Homo sapiens: one gene and its partner. The protein of the gene in region 1 purifies or fractionates together with the protein of each later gene. This does not show direct contact. Each region holds a gene or a part of one and is shown on either strand. Other genes may lie near its edges.

The links.
Region 2: the proteins of DTNA (region 1) and POTEI purify together in Homo sapiens (affinity purification with mass spectrometry; 3 studies listed by BioGRID and IntAct, with this or other methods). This does not show direct contact.

The regions. Positions count from the first base shown.
Region 1 is NC_000018.10:34,886,925-34,894,172, reverse strand, and holds the end of DTNA (dystrobrevin alpha), read right to left. Parts: intron 6,408-7,248; 3' UTR 3,874-6,407; coding exon of another isoform or gene 3,733-3,873; 3' UTR 2,329-3,732; downstream 1-2,328. UniProt on the Homo sapiens protein: May be involved in the formation and stability of synapses as well as being involved in the clustering of nicotinic acetylcholine receptors.
Region 2 is NC_000002.12:130,469,382-130,479,582, reverse strand, and holds part of POTEI (POTE ankyrin domain family member I), read left to right. Parts: intron 1-2,881; coding exon 2,882-2,952; intron 2,953-4,631; coding exon 4,632-4,676; intron 4,677-5,023; coding exon 5,024-5,205; intron 5,206-10,201.

The DNA of each region.
Region 1 (7,248 bases):
CAAGCTTGAAAATAGCAAAGAGATTCTTTGAACATGATTAAATCAATTCAATTCAATGCTCATGTGACAGCTGCTGCATCAACACAGTTGATCATCACCACAGCTCCTGATTTTATTCCTACATTTCTGACCATTCCTTTTCAGTCTCTTTTATTATCTCCATAGTGATGATGTCAAGATTTGTAGTACCAGTTCAGACTTTGCTTCTGAATTTCAAGCCTAGATTTCCAATACTCCTCCCTCTTTTCACTTGGATGTTTAATAGGCATCTCGAAGGTATTAAGTCCAGAAATTAGCTCCTGAAATTCTACCCACCCAAATTCTGCTCTTTCTCAGTAGTTTAATTCTCCCAGTTATTTGGGTTCTCAAATTATTTTATCATCCTTATTTCTTCTCTTTCTCTCACACACATCCAATCTACCCACAAAATCTGTTGGTTCTACCCTCAAAACATATTTAGAATATAACCACTTTTACTCTACCCTTAGTCTAAACTATCATTATTTCTTTTTGTTTGGATTATTGCAGTGATGTCCTAACCAATCTCCCTGAAAAATTATCTGTGAAATTTATTTCTATACATCCAACAAGCACAATGAACTCTAGGTAGAATAAATTCAGTGAGGTCCACATCAAGAACATTGTAATCAAACTGTTGAATGTCAAAGACAGAGAATCTTGAAAGCAACAAGAAAGAATCAACTATCATGTACAAGGGAACCTTAGTAAGATGAACAGTTGGCTATTTATCAGGAACTATGGAAGCCAGAAAACAGTGGGCATATTTAAAGTGCTGAAAGAAAAGAACCTATCAACCAAGAATTCTGTATCTGGCAAAATTGCCCTTCAAAAGTGAGGAAGAAATTGAGATATTCCCAATAAACAAAAGCTGAGGGGTTCACTACAAGTAGACCTGCCCTGCAAGAAATGCTACAAGATGTCCTCAAGTTGAAATGAAAGGACACTAAATGGTAACTTGAAGCTGTATGAAGAAATAAAGGTCTACAGTAAAGGTAACTACATGGGCAAATATAAAAGCAAGTATTATTGTGTAGCATAATGGAGAATATATGTGGTCTCTCTGGTCTTTGTACCTGGCTCCTGGCACAGAGCTTCAAAAGCCCTTGGAATTTCCTGAGTGACAAGAGTATATTTTTTATGCTAATGAGGTGACTCTTTGTAGGTTCCTAGATAGCTTCAGAATGGGGCTGATCACCAGAAAGATCAATCACATGATTAGATGATGGCAACTTCTGGGAAGGGTATCTTTATGTCCTATATACGGGAATCCTCAAAGTCCAGGTGATGCTAATTCTGTTGGTCACTGGACCATATTTTGAGCAGCAAAGAAATAGCATAATAGCATTTGTTAAAACTGGTCAGACTGTAAGCATCACCTGAAGTGCTTATTAAAAATACCATCCAGATTACCTGACCCTACTCTACATCTGCCAAATCAGAATTAATCAACTTCTCAGGAGGCTTTTGTAATTCAATAAATTTGGGAAATGCTGAGGTAGGGCAGAGCTAAATGTGGCCCCTAAGAGATGAAGTGGTGAGTCACTGGGATAGCGCCCAAAGGGATGTGGACAGGAGCTGCTGGACATGCCCTTGGCTCTCACCTTCAAAGGGAAGTGGACTGTGTGAGTTCCCTCTCACGATTATCTCAGGTCAGTATTTGCCTTTGTAATTGATGGAGAACTTCTTAATTTCTCTCTCTAGTGCGTCTAGAGTGTTGACAGTTGTTTCCATGGACTTCAAATCAACCCAACCCTGTGAGCACAGACTTTCAGCACCAGAGTCAGATTTCCCAAAAATGCTATTCTTGAAGCGTAGAGCCAGACTCACAGATCCTGTAAAGAAAACAGATCTTTCAGCAAGTGAAACACCCAATCTTCCATTGCATGGGACTCACAGAGGTTCTGAGGGAGAGATGTGAATAGAAGGAGTGATCATCACTGTGGACTCTATTTCTTCCATCTGTGCGTGCAAGATTTATATCTGTATGTGTTTGTTTTAAAGTTTTATTGAGGTATAATTGATACACAATAATCTGTACCTATTTAATGTATACAATTTGATGAGTTTGGACATACTTAAATACCTGTGAAACCATCACCACAATCAAGGTAATAGACATAGCCATCACCTCCAAAAGTTTCTTTGTGTCCCTTTGTGGTTTGTTTCTGAGATAAGAACACTTAACATGTGGACTCTTGACACTCTCCTTGGATCTCTTAATTTGATTGCTGTTGCTGTCACCACATTGACTTCCTAGCCCTGCTGATCCTCCTTTATCACTAGCTCTAGAAAAAAAAACAAACCAAACACCACTAATTCATTTATTCAGTAATTCAACAAAAAAACCATTGAGCACTTAATATTTGCAGAATACATGGCTAGATGCAGAGGATTCAAAGAATTGAGTGAAGTCACATAAAGTGTTAAGAACAGTGTGTGATACAAACATGAAATATGTTAGCTGTTAGAATTTCAAACTCACTTCCATATCAATTATAATAAGGATTTCCATAAATAGCAGAATAGTATTTCTATTAGATGCTCACAGATGCTAATAAAACAGTAGAATGGTAAAAACCATGCATCCCCCAAGGCAAGAGAAGGTGAGCTATTTTGCCTCGGTGGCTCAATATTCCATCAATGGGTCCTGCTTTAAACTGCAAGTACCTGCCTTCCTTCTTTCAACAGACTGACTCCACGTTGCTTTAGGAAAGATTCACTGAAACAAAGGAATAAACCACCCAAGATATAGTGTTTTTAAAAACATTTTTTAATGAAGAAATTATTCCACTCCAAAATATAGACACACAATTAAATAGTTTAATCACTTCAAAATATAACATGTCCCCAGGAGGTTCCAACACACACACACACACACACACACAAAACAATACTTAACAGCAATACAAAAATCCATACAATAGTATTTTTTTTTTACAATACCAATGAATATTGTGAAATCTTTAGTGTCTCTGAATTGATTATTTCAAATGGTGTCAAATTGCAGTAGTCATAATTAAAAATGTCTTACAGTTAATTCGCCTCAAGATGCAACACTTCTGATTTTTTTTTCTCTTTTTGGTTCAAAAGTAAAAATGCCCTTTCTTCTAAGGACAGTGGAGTTCTCACTTGTGGCTCCTTGCGTGGAATCGAACCAAGGGGAATGCAGCAACCAAAGGTTGCTGGATTTACAAGATCTATCTACGGTTAACAGCCAAGAACTAATAAGGGTGGACAAAGATGATCAAAATAAAAGCAGACATCAGTGCTAAATTATGATGCAACAGTTTGGCTCATGCATATAAGAAAATACATAGTATATCACAACAAAGGCCACACACTCTTAATGCAATTCAGTTCACATTACTACTTACAAATGAACCTTCCCTGCCTTATAGTAGATCATTCAAGAACCCATTTTTCACAATCTCCAGCACAACTCCCTCTGACCAACCAAACTTACCCCAACTTCCGTCCTGACCAACCACAACTGTTTCCTGAATCCCATGCAGTAGATTTCACCTTCCTCCCCTCCTCCATTAATATGGCGCTGTGGAGGAGGGTTGGCTGTGTTAGACCAGTGCTTATTAACAGGCTATCAGCTCTGATGGAGATGGATGTGCAATTCATTGTGGAACAAGAAAGAAACAACCCCCGCAAGATGTAGTTGTATCTAATGGACAGGACAAGTGAAACTTGCTGGGTTTGCACTTAGAACAGGCCCCAAAAGTAAATCTGGAGAGCCAAGGAAAGAAACCCACCAAAAAACACAAAACCCCAAAATAACACACGCCATTTTGTCTCGCTTACAGGACAGGGGTGCTCGAGTCTGGTCTCAGTGCTGACGTGGAGCTAAGAGAGAGAAAAGGTGGCTGGTTAGTCAGAAATTGGTCATTGGCGGCAGTTTCCAGAGTCCTTGCAATGGCTTTATATGACGATATCAACAACCATGTGATGGAGTTGGTTGGCAATGAAATAGCTATGACAACGGGGAAGGTTATCAGCAGAACAGTTCAAATCTTAGACGAACATTTTGATGTAGAAACACAAAGAAACAACATATGCCAGCTCGGTCCAGTCAGTGGTGGAGTGCCACGTGCAGGATTTAAGTTCTGAGTTCAAGAACTACCTGGCTATGATTTTGAGCTGACAGCATTATAGGTAGCTGGGATGTAGTGGTTTTCAATACTGAGTATGAGGCACCAGTGGCCACCTGCTCCATCTAGAGAGGTATGGGTTCACAGAGGATGGGCAGTGGAAAAGAGATGAACATTAAGACACCCCAACAAAACCCGCAATAAAAATCAATCTGTGCAAAGAAATCTGAGAACTGTGCAGTTGTGCCACTTTGGTGTCAGCCTGTGCTCAGAGACATTTGTCAGGTGAGTTCTCTGGAGAGATATATGATTAAGTATGTCAAGGGATAGGATGGGCTTCTCACTAATGCCAATTGAGCACTTTATCCCCAAGGCAAGTGATTTGGTTTCAAAGGGCAGCCAAGGAGATGATGTCTGACCAAACGCAGACATGTGAACATCGTACAGCCGCCCTCTGCAGAGGGGGCATGAAGATGTCAGGACTTGGCTGGGCACCTACCAACTACGAACTTGGTGTGTGGGTTCAGAGAAGGTTTTTGCCAGCCCCAGAAGCAAAAGTGAATCACAGAACCTTTCTTGCTTATTCTGAATAAGGCCTTTTCAGAGACTTTATTATACGACTTCATTCTAAAGCAGTAGTTCTCAACCTTTAGCGAGCATCAGAATCACCTAGAGGGTTGACTAAAACAGACTTCTGGACCCAACCCCCAGAGCTTCTGATTCAGTAGGCCTGAGGTGGGGCTTACAAATTAGTATTTCGAAGACCTTCCTAAGTGTTGCAGATGCTGCTTGTCCGGGGAACACACTTTGAGAACTATTGTTCTAAAATGTTCTCTCCTTTCTTTTAAAGGAGAGACAGGAATTCCAGAGAAACTGCTAATTTAAGCATAATGTATTGAATAGGTCGCAGGCTTTTTTAAAAAAATCAAATCTTGAAGCAAGTAGAAGATTACTTTTTCTTTTTCCCCAGAATTCCCAAAGGAGGTCTTTAGGGCCCTCTAAAGAGGGTCCTTGGAAAAGACTATCCCAGTCTTTTATCCTCTTGTCTTTGATAGCTCTTTTGCACTTCAGCTTTTCACTGAGTGCAAAAATCCCAACTCAACTTAGAAGAGCCTGTCTCCTTTCACATGACCACAGAAGGCTACATGCAGAACACCAGGTGGCCAGCTAAGGCAATCAACATTCAGAAAAAAAGGAGAGCAAACGTTTGCAAGCGCACTTTAAGCCTGTACATTTAAAGCTGAAGGCCTCCAAACAACTTGATGGGGGAACTTGTGAACGAGCGGTGCTGTTAAAGACATGCTTCCTAAAGCCAAAACGAGAGGAACAAGACCATGGAAGAGCAGAGATAACTTTAGTCCGTTTGGGGATCTTATGGCACCTGTGGTTTATAAACAGCTTTAGTAACGAGTATTTCAAAACATAGTTCACAGTTTTTAAGAAGATCTGTGCTGATTTTAAAAACTAGATTCTATATAATTTGAATGCTGCCTTTTTTGAATATGATATCTATTTGGAAAAAAAAATATTTACACTAAATTCTATGGCTGATTAGAGTATCTTGAAAGAAAACAACCTCGAGTTGGAAAGAGGCCCCAAAGAATGGATTATTCCTGGTGTGTTTGGTTCAAGTCACTGCTCACAGAGACTTGGAGTCAACTACAGACCGTGCAGGCCAAGGACCCTTCTTGGCTTCCGGGCTCTGAGTTTGTACACTCAGGAACCAAATTCTTCAGGGTTATTGAATGATTGCAAGTGGTTGTTTTTTTCCAATTGCTGTGAAAAAAATGTACAGTGTATAATAAACTGTTTTGCTAAAATCTCAAAGAATTCAGAAATCAAACTTCTAGCTATAAACAGTATTAATATTGTCATTGTAAACTGAACAGGTTCAATATCATGTGCAAAGGTTTAAAATGCTTGTTAATACTGCCATTGTGTATAACAGCAGCATGGGTTTTCAGCCTGTGTTTGTTTGCTTTTTAACCAGGGATGAACCACGTTACAGAGGATGTAGCTGATAAGTTAACTTTGAACAGAAGTCTTTTTTTTTCCTTCTTGAAACACACACCTATGCACTACAAATCTGAGAACAAAAAGTTAGCTGCACTATAGTCATCAGGACACATCTTTAGGGGTGGGGGTCTGTCAGGAGCTGCTGGGTGTGGTGGTTCCTCTCTTCGGTGAGGCTGCTGCCAGGCTGCTGTCTTCCTCCTCTGTGTGGCCACAGGGCTCTCCATCATCACCAGTTTTCATGTTACTTTCATCATCTGTCTGACTATAGCTTGCCTGGGAATAAGGAATGTGTAATTTTTTTTAAAGATGCAAATTGTTTCTAAATTAGGGTTATGAAACTTAGGATCCCCCCTTTCCCCAATATAGAAGAAAGTGCGCGCGCACACACACACACACATGCACACACACACTCCTTTCCTACGACAATCAGGAATGAAAGTCCTAGGACACTGTGCTATTGCACCTTCTGGAAGAGAGGACAGGAAGTCCTCCATGTGGATCTCTTTCTTAGTGGGTACCAGAGGCATCTGGAGGGGAAAAGCAACACAAACAGAAATATTTGTGCTGTCTTTTGGACAAAGAGATAAAACCAGTGACCCATGATTAGGCTGCCACGTTGGTTTTTAAAAAATCTACTTTGGATGGTCCAATCCTCTAATTTCCACTTGGATGTGAGTGGCCAAGGACAGTGGTGTACCATGTGGCCACAGGATGTAACAGGGACAAATTGAATACCTAAATGGGCTAAAATTGAGTCTTGGAGGACCCTAAGCTGAGTGCCATTATGTATACCGTTTCTTCAAAAGTGGCTAGTTGAAAACCAATAAACCAGGTTTTAAACTATTCACTTTTTTTAATATTGTATGTTGAAAGTGTGTACTTATTTTCAAATAAGCCTAAAGCTCTTTTTGAGCAGAGGTTGCATCTTCTATGTCTCTGGCGTCCACCTTCTGCCTCTTCCCAATGCAAGGCTCTCTGCCTTGGCGGATGGCTAACTAATGTCAAGCTGATGAATCTGGCTTCAGAACCCTTGGATAAGAGACACATATACTTTGGGATAATTTCTGGTCTTGCAGTACAGCCAGAAAGTCTAAACAAAAATATTTTAATGAAA
Region 2 (10,201 bases), on another chromosome or scaffold:
AGCAAACAGGCATGACTGAGCTCCTATAAAACTTTATTTACAAAACCATAATGCAGATTGGATTTGGCCTGTGGCCTATAGTTTCCTGGGATTGATGGGAGATAATCATGCAAAGAAACCAGGAGACAAAGGAAGCTTTTGCAGTAGTCAGCTATAGTTTCCATGTTACACATCCTTGGAGTAGCATCAATGTATTATAAGGTTTTCACCCGTCCATGGTGAAATAAATAATGTTAGAAATCTCAGTTACTCATTTTACTATGTTGGCCTTCGTTATGCCTTTTTCACTTGTTTTGCTTAATTTTTTTTTCCTGTAAGAAATAACATTAATAGTTGGCAGTTTTCTTTTAAATAGAAGTCATTTTGTAAATGTTTATGTTCCCAGTGGCAGTGGGAATATAAAACAGAGGCAGAAGAGAGGTATAGTCAATATGATTTAGTGATAATTGAATGAGAAAGGCTTGGGGGACAGAGAGAAATCTCAGATGATGTACAGGTTTCCAGATTGTACACTAGTATTTAACCTGGACATGAGGAAGGAGTAGGAAATTTTCTGGTGAATACAGGAGAGCAAAGAGCAGCAGGTCAGCAGGAATGACTAATTTTTTTCTATGCATGTTTAATGGAATATTCGTGTAGGATATTTTGAGTAGGTCATTGGATAATCAGCATTTATAACTCACATCCTACTAGTTTGATTCTCAGTAATAAGACTTGTCAAAGATCCAAGAATCTGAAAGTCAGTAATAAATGTCCATGTGCATCATCGTCCGTGACAGAAAGTCAGCATCCACAGAACACAGAATTGGGACAGATGAACTTAATAGATAAAGATGAATATCGGAGTTGTTCCTCTTAGGGAATGATACTCTCCATGACCTGTGTGAGTCACAGCTGCCAGAAAAGAAAGAGCAAGGAGCATATGAAGGCAGCACAGCAAATTCGGTCCTAGAGTGCCCTGCTTGGCTTCATGTCATAGTTCTGACTTCTAAATAATCATTTTCTGCAAAATGTGCTTTGTGTTTTTCCCTCTTGCCGCCTGCAGCCAATCAGAATTTTTTAGCAGGACATAATGAAAAGAAGTAAGAGAAAGAGTGTTTTTTTGTATGGGATAGTATTTAACGTAAACTTGAGAGTGAGTACCAGGATTATACTTAGAATTTATGGACTGGATGGAAAGACTGGATAGAAATCTAAAGATTGCTGACTCAAACACAATGTGGTTTCTTTGATTTATTTTCACAGCTCTGAATTCACGACTGTTAATTGTATTCATATGCACTATAACTTTACAAAGCATCTTCCCAAACCAAATATTTACTGATTTAGTATAATTTGTATGACTTTATTATAGAACTGACTTTCCAAGTGTTCATGAGAATTGTTTAGTATTTGCTACATTGTATCATCTCAGCTGTGTCCACATGAGCTATCTGTCACCTTGTCTTAATGAATAATTGTTCACTAGGAATATTGGTTTTGGCATTGAAATGATCTATATCTAAATGCAGATAGGACCCGGGACCACTTTTGAACATTAATGTCCAAGCATCTTAAAATTACACATAAGGCTTTCATAATCTGACTTCTGCCCCACTCTCCATCTTTAGCCCTTTTCCCTGTGTGCACTGTCTCTGGCATTACTGAGCTGCTGGCAATGCCCTACTCACTCATCCTTCTATTGTAGGCAAATACTTTCACTCTTTCAGGCCTCGCTCCCGCTCTTGCTGCTGCATGGTATGCCGTCACCCTTTCCTGCCCTCTACCCCTTTTAATCTGGCTAGTCTCAATATTTAAGTCTCTGCTTGGGCATGTGTTCTAGAAAAGCCATCTCTGACAGGCTTTATTTTAATTCTTTTTAAACCCTAATGCCTAGCATGTATTTAGCAGGACTCAATAAAATATTTCTGAGTAAAACAAAGACTGTTTTTACAAAGATGATGTGCAAGACTCTCCCCTGCAGTCTTGGAGCAGAGGGGACAGACATGTGGAGGAATAATGTACAGTTTAGGTGGTCAAGATGCAGTAGAAAAATCAGTAAAGTACTAAGGCAGCCTCAAGGAAGGAGGTACCTGTTTATTTGGGGAAAGACATGCAAAATCAAGGAAGACTTCACATAGCATTGTTTCAAAAGATGAAAATAAGGCCAGGTGTGGTGGCTCACACCTGTAATCCCAGCACTTTCAGAGGGGATCACGAGGTCAGGAGATCGAGACCATCCTGTCCAATGGTGAAACCCCATCTCTACTAAAAATACAAAAATCAGCTGGGTGTGGTGGTGCTTGCCTGTAATCACAGTTACTCAGGAGACTGAAGCAGGAGAATCACTTGAACCAGGGAGGCGGAGGTTGCAGTGAGCTGATCATGCCACTGCATTCCAGCCTGGTGACAGAGGAAGACCCTGGTTCATAAAAAAAAAAAAAGAAAAAAGAAAAAAAGAAAATAAATTTGTCAGAATAGTGGAGGGAAACATTTTAGATATTAGGAAGACGTTGTACACTAATAAAGGTGTCAGCAGTGATTTTGGAAATCATTTATAAGGTACTATTAGGAAGTGGAGAACAGTACACTGTGTCACCTTATATGTTTCTACTGTATTTTAAAGCTGTGTTTCTGGTGGTTTTGTTCATGGATGTTGGGTGGATGAATTTGTGAGGGAATTTTTGACATGTTTGTTTGTCTTCAATCTGGTGACATCTGGTATCTCCCCAAGTGGGTTTTTGAAGTTTTTGAGAATTATTTCTTAAATGACAATTTCACAAAAGATGAAACACTCAATTTATGAAATAAAATGAAATGTCTCAAATCCGTTTTTAAAAGGCAATAGTTTTTAACTGTTCTAAGTGGTTGATTTTAACTGAATATATGGATTTTTCAACAGAACAAGACTTAAAGCTGACATCAGAGGAAGAGTCACAAAGGCTTAAAGGCAGTGAAAATGGCCAGCCAGAGGCATGGAAACTTTTAAATTTAAACTTTTGTTTAATGTTGTGTGTTTTTTGCCTTAATAATAGTAGATAGTCCAAATGAAATTACCTTTCAGACTAGGCTTTGAGAATCAGTAGATTGTTTTTTTAAGAATCTTTTGGCCAGGCAAGGTGGCTCACGCCTGTAATCCCAGCACTTTGAGAGGCTGAGGCAGGTGGATCACGAGGTCTGGAGATCGAGACCATCCTGGCTAACATGGTGAAACCCCGTCTCTAGTAAAAATACAAAAACTTAGCTGGGCGTGGTGGCGGGTGCCTGTAGTCCCAGCTACTCGGGAGGCTGAGGCAGGAGAATGGCATGAACCCAGGAGAGGGAGCTTGCAGTGAGCCGACATCCACCACTACACTCCAGCCTGGGTGACAGAGCAAGACTCCATCTGAAAAAAATATATATATATATTTTAATAGGTTCTTAAAATTTATTGTAATAAAATCAGCAACCTTCTTAACAGAAGAATCAATAGATTCTAATTTAATATTTGATATTTAACTTCAACATAACCCACTATAAAATTTAAAATACTCTTATTTTAAAATATTCTTATCTGCCTTCTTGATTAGCTTATAGCTAATCTCTCCTTTTGGAATAGAGGCAAAAACAAATTTCAGAACTTTGTTTGTTCTTTTATTTTTACAACACCCTAACATGATAAAGAAAGTAACATCAATGATTGAATCATATTATTAAGCAATAGGAATTATGAACAATGTAACACTGATTCCCTGAGCTGGATTCATGGTTAAAGAGTAATCATGGCCTGTGATTGAAAATCCACAGTTTTATATTGTCAGTCACTGATACCAAGGTTAAGGACATATCCTGCCTTGTGGTCTCTCGTTGACCTCAGTGTTTCTGTTCAGGGAGGGAACCAGGTCATAAAAGCAACCCAACTGCCTATTACAAGAACCATATCTTGCAGAATGGGACCTTTGGTGTTAGTGCACAAACACAATAACATTCTAATTTATTTCAGTTGCAGAAAATCAGTACAGATTAAAAAATTCTATCTGCTGTCATTAGTACACATTAGAATATATTAGAACTGGACTTACGCAGATAATCTGGATACATAACACTATCATATGACAGTATATAATTTCAATTAAAATGTGAGAATTTGCATTTCTTTCTGTTTGGTGTTGATTTCGGCTCCTAATAGTTTAAAGGGTGCCTACAATCCAGTTAGGAATCTTTTAAAAAAGCACTTCAGTGCACTGTAGGGGCTCACTAGTTAGGGTTTCATGAGGTAAACTCTTTTCAAGTGAGGAAGATTTTGGAACACTACAAATCATCTGCTGATTCATTTTTGGTAGATTTAACACATAACAAATTAAGTTTAGTCCAAACAAATAGTGAGAAAGTTAAGTTTGCTGGTTCATGTTTTTCTTCTCCCTTTGTCTAAGGTGAATTATTTTTCACATGTTAGAAGCCAGTGATGTGGCAGTAGCTAAACATAGATTAAAAAGTTAATTCTTAATTTTAATTATTATTTATTTAAACAGTTTAATTTTAATTACTTTCTAATTTTTATTGTCCATACTTGATTACTTCAGAATAAAATTATTTTAAAAACATGCACTCCAAAAGAGGAAATGTCACAGAAATACAACAAGCAAATTAACCTTCTGTTTTTACATCTGCAGAAAAGATCTCAAGAACCAGAAATAAATAAGGATGGTGATAGAGAGGTATACCTTTATATTCAAATGTTTGTGTTGAATTAGATTTTTACATTATGTTGTTTAACAAAGTGTAGTAAATGTAGGCATACATGATCCTATCATGTAAGTAGCATAAATCATCAGTGAAAAATTAAATAGTTAACTCAGAATTCTGTACATTGAATTTTGAAGAGGTGCAAACCCTAGAGCTATTCTTTCATTATTATGGAATAATCCCGAATGGTGCCATAAAATGCTAGGTAATGCCACTTTAGGAGCTTTAGACCAATTATTTTATCTTTCTTGGTTTTAGTCTGATTATCAGTAGATAATGTGCCTAAAGTAGATAATTTCTTATTCTCTGTATTTTCCAGCTAGAAAATTTTATGGCTATCGAAGAAATGAAGAAGCACGGAAGTACTCACGTCGGATTCCCAGAAAACCTGACTAATGGTGCCACTGCTGGCAATGGTGATGATGGATTAATTCCTCCAAGGAAGAGCAGAACACCTGAAAGCCAGCAATTTCCTGACACTGAGAATGAAGAGTATCACAGGTAAGCCTATGGCAACATTGAACAGGAGGTAACTTTGTGCTGTCAAACTAATCCTAATTTGAGCTAATATTCATGATGAACAAATTTTATACTTTTATTAGGATATTGAGCCTTGCCTGTTAATCAGAAAAATGAAAATCAGCAAACAATCAGTTACCGTTTTTTTTCCAGTCATTAATTTATTTGAAAAATAACCAGTATTGGCAAATGTGAGGGAAAAGGCATTTTCTTCTCTTTTCAGTGAACTTTTATTTTAGCTTCGGGTACGTGTGCAGGTTTATTATATAGGTAAACTGTATCATGGAGGCTTGGGGTACAGATTATTTCACCAGCCACATAATAAACAAAATACTCGAAAGGTAGTTTTTTGGTCGTCTCCCTCCTGCCATGCTCCTCCCTCAAGTAGGCCCCAGTGTATGTTATTCTCCTCTTTGTGTCCATGAGTTCTCATGTTTAGTTCCCACTAATGAGTAAGAATATGTGGCATTTGATTTTCTGTTCCTGCATGAGTTTTCTTAGGATAATGGCCTCCAGCTCCATCCGTGTTGCTGCAGGGGAAATGGTTTCATTGAAAAAGACATTTCATATACTGTTGGTAAATACATTTTGAACATTAATTGAGTAGCATATTCACACACACATATATAACAGAGTAAGCATATATAATACATGTAAAGGATATTTGTATAGATATGTTATATGTATACTTATGTATAAGGACATTTATTATAGTATTATTATGTAAAAAATTTGGAACTAGTCTAATTGCTTATCAATAGGAAATAGCTCAATTTCCATATCCCCAAAATAATGTATTATGCAACCATTTTTAAAAAATGAGGTTAGATGTAGGGTATACTGATTATTTCACAATTAAAATGTATTTAAAGCGTTTAGTTTGATGACACATCTTAAGAGTTCTTGTTAAAATTCTTGTAATATCTGCTGTGTTGCAAATGGAAGCTACATGCTACATTGACACTGTACCTTGTTAGCAACAAGATTGCTAGTTACTAAATTTTTGTTGTCAGTGCCTGAGTGCTGAAATATTGGACCCTCAATCTGAATATTGCCAAGGGATTGTACATGGGGATCTATATTTAATATAAACATTTCAGTATATTTGGTAAAACTTTTATTAAAATACATCAAAGAATCTTTGATCTACTAAACCAGGAGTTGGCCAGCTTTTTCTGCAAAGAGCTAGTTAGTAAATATTTTAGGCTTTGTGGACTACATATATTGATTTTCTTGAGACAGGGTCTCACTCTGTTTCCCAGGCTGGAGTGCAGTTGTGTGATCATGGCTCACTGCAGCCTCGACTTTCTGGGCTCTAGTGATCCTCTGACCTCAGTCTCTACTAGCTGAGACCACAGGTGTGCAACATCACACCCAGCTAACTGACACTATGGACTGTAAAGTGAATAAGCATGGCTGTGTTCCAAGATACTTGACTTACAAAAACGGGCAGTGGGCTGGATTTGGCCCACAGGTGCTTATTTGCTGACCCTTGTGCTAAAAGGAAGGTGCTGCTAATGCAGTGACTTTTATTTGTAAAAGTGCCCTGCATGTGTGACATTATCCTCCCTTTGAGAAAAGGATATATTTCAGTATTCACCTCACCGTATTTTTCCAGTGACTTCATATGATTTTGAAAACTACATTTATAAAATAAGATTATTTTCTGCATTTCTCCCACTTTATTCCTGTTAATAGAACTCAGTATTTTACTGTGATCAATTACTTTGTATATTTGATGAGTGTCAACTGTCCTAGAATTGGCTGATTTTTATCAAGCAAGAAATATTCTCCTTGAGAGTTTTAGTATTTCTTGGTCTTTATGTATAAGCATGAACAAAATGATAATCAGCTTATGTAATCTAGAAATGTTCAAAGGGCCTTTAAAAACCTTGGTCTGACATTTCTAAATGCCATATGTGTATAATTTTTATAACCTTTAGAATATATAATTGTTACATAAAATTTGAAAACTCCACCTGTTATGTAAAATTTGGAAGCTACTATTTCTTGTCTATCACTTTTCCATGACTGTGGATGAAAATTACATCATTCTCAGTCATGAGCGTTAAGTATGTTGTCCTTAAAGAACTGTCTACACTCATGAACTCAAATTTTCTTTCCATTCACTCTTGATCTCAATGCCGGTAAGTCTTCAATTTCAGCACTCCTCCAGAGTTGTTTTTCCTCAAGATTATCACTAATTTTTTTCTGTACTAAATCTAGGCATTTTTCTTACACCTCATTTAATCTGTCAGCAATATTTGAGCCAATGGAGGGCATCTCCTCCCTAATGGCGTCTTCACTTGGCTTTCAGGACCTCACTCCCTCAGGCTTTTCCTCCTGCCTTTCTAGTCCGTTTATCATGGTCTGTTTTGCTTGCTGCTCCTCATCTTTCTCCTTTTGGACATTGTTGTTTCTCATGGCTCAGTCCTCAATCTTCTTTCTCATGGTTTTTTTTTTTTTTTTTTTTTTTTTTTTAAGACAGAGTCTCGCTTTGTCCCCCAGGCTGGAGTTCAGTGGCATGATCTTGGCTCATTGCAACCTCTGCCTCATGAGTTCCAGCACTTCTCCTGCCTCAGCCTCCTGAGTAGCTGGGATTACAGGTGTGCGACACCACGCCTGGCTAATTTTTGTATTTTTAGTAGAGACAGGTTTCCCCATGTTGGCCAGGCTGGTCTCAAACTCCTGACATCAGGTGATCTGCCCGCCTTGGCCTCATGACATGTTGGGATTACAGGCGTGAGCCACCGTGCCTGGCCCCTCATGACTTTTTCTACTGTGTATATGCTAGTGATTTCCAAATGTATGTCTCCAACTTAGATCTCTTTCCTTAATTCCAGATCTCTATATCATCCCACCTACTTGACATCTCTATTTGATTAGCTGTTGGGTATCACACACTTGTCAGATCCAAAATTGGGCTACTGATGTCCTTCCTGAAATCTACACCTCATGTAGTCTTTCCTACTTTGGTTAACAGCAACTCTTCCAGTTGCTCTGCCAAAAACCTCAGTGTTATTCTTGACTGATCTTTCTCTCTGTCCTGACACTTCACATCTAATCTCTCAGTAAATCTTGTCAGGTCTATCTGAAGAATATATCCAGAGGCCAGTCTATCTTATACAACTGAGCCACCGTCATCTGCAGTTTAGATGAGTGTCATAGACTGGGAATTGATAGTCCTGGTTTTTAAAAGCTTCCCCTTTCATCAATTCTTATCTCAGTGGATGTATTTAAAACATAAGTCAAATGTTGTCATTCCTCTGCCCCAGCCGTTCTGATTGCCTCCCATTTCACTCTGAGTATGTGGCAGAGTTCCTCCTAATAACTGAAAGGCAGTAAACCATCTGGCATGTTACCTCTCCTGCTGAAACTTCTGTTTCTTATCTCTATTGCTGTGTTTCAGCCACACTGAACTTGTTGTTATTCCTTACCTATCCCTTAGTGCTTAAAGACTCCAGGCACACCTCTGCACTTAGCAGTTCCCTGTGTCTGGAATGCTTTTTCCCCAGATATTCTTCTAGCTTACTGTTTCCATTACTTCAGCTCTTTACTTAAAATCCCCTTTCTAAGAAGAAGAAAAAGGGTAAAAAGAAACCCATTAAGGAATAACCACTTCCTGAGGGAGAACCATGTACCAGCACAATTCCTAGCCCAGAGAAAATGAAGAAAATGAAAAAAAAGAGAGATAATGAGGACTAACAGAAAGGAATTAGGATTGTATCATCAGGACGCGTCAGGCTTGAGATTCGATTGGGAACATACCAGGGATGCTCTCTAACGTAATTGAGGGAAGTTTCAATGAAACAAAGTGATTTATCATCTCTAACTTCAAACCTATTTGTGTCTTGACATCAACTCTGTTAACATCATCATCTTTTAGAGTCTTTGATGTACAAATAAAAGTTTCTTTATATTAAAGAAAAATCCTCTTTCTCAGCAGGGACTTTTCTGGCCATCCCAACTTTCCCACCACCCTTCCCATCAAACACATAAAGATTTCATTTTCCTGCTTTGGTTTTTCTCCTCTAACGTACTGTGTATTTTGCCGTATCTGTCTGTTGTTATTGTGTGTTTATCTCACTCTCATGAATAGGGTTTTTATTGTTCATTACCATATCCTCACTTCCTAGAAAAAGGCCTAGCCTATCAGACGTAGCTACCTAATAAATAGGTATTAAATGAATGAATGGAGTTTATCCCGGGTATATTGTTTGATTGATTCTCACTTAAAAAATGTTTGACAAGGTTCATTTTAACAATTTTGCCTGGTAATTATATGTATTTTAAAAATTCTTTCGGCTTTTTATAATAAGCTACATTCTTTATATTAATATTTTTTCACTTAGGGAGAAAAGCCCAATATTGTGGTTATTCACTATTCTTTTACTGGTAATCATGATAATTGCAATTATGGTAAAATGAGTTAGAGAAATTACAAGCTTTACTGGTATTTTATTTATTTAGAGACAGAGTCTCGCTCTGTCACCCAGGCTGCAGTGCAGTGGTGTGACCTCGGCTCACTGCAACCTCTGCCTCCTGGGTTCAGGCGATTCTCCTACCTCAGCCCCCTGAGGAGCTGGGATTACAGGTGCGTGCCATGACACCCGGCTAATTTTTGTATTTTTAGTAGAGACGGGGTTTCATCCTGTTTGTCAGGCTGGTCTTGAACTCCTGACCTCAGGCAGTCCACCCACCTCATCCTCACAAAGTGCTGGGTGGATTACAGGTGTAAGCCACCACATCCGGCCACTAGTATTTTATTTTTTTTAGGGTGGTAAATGTAATGGACTCACAAATTCTTTCCAAGGGATTATGGACCTTCGGTATTTGAAATAAAAAGACAGTTGGAATTTTTTGCTTCCGATAGTAAGACTATACTGGTCAGGCACTGTCTATTCTGATGGAGCAGCTGTTGCTGCTTGGCTGTCTTTCAGAAGCAGGCTGCTCACACTGATATTGGTTGGTGAGCAAG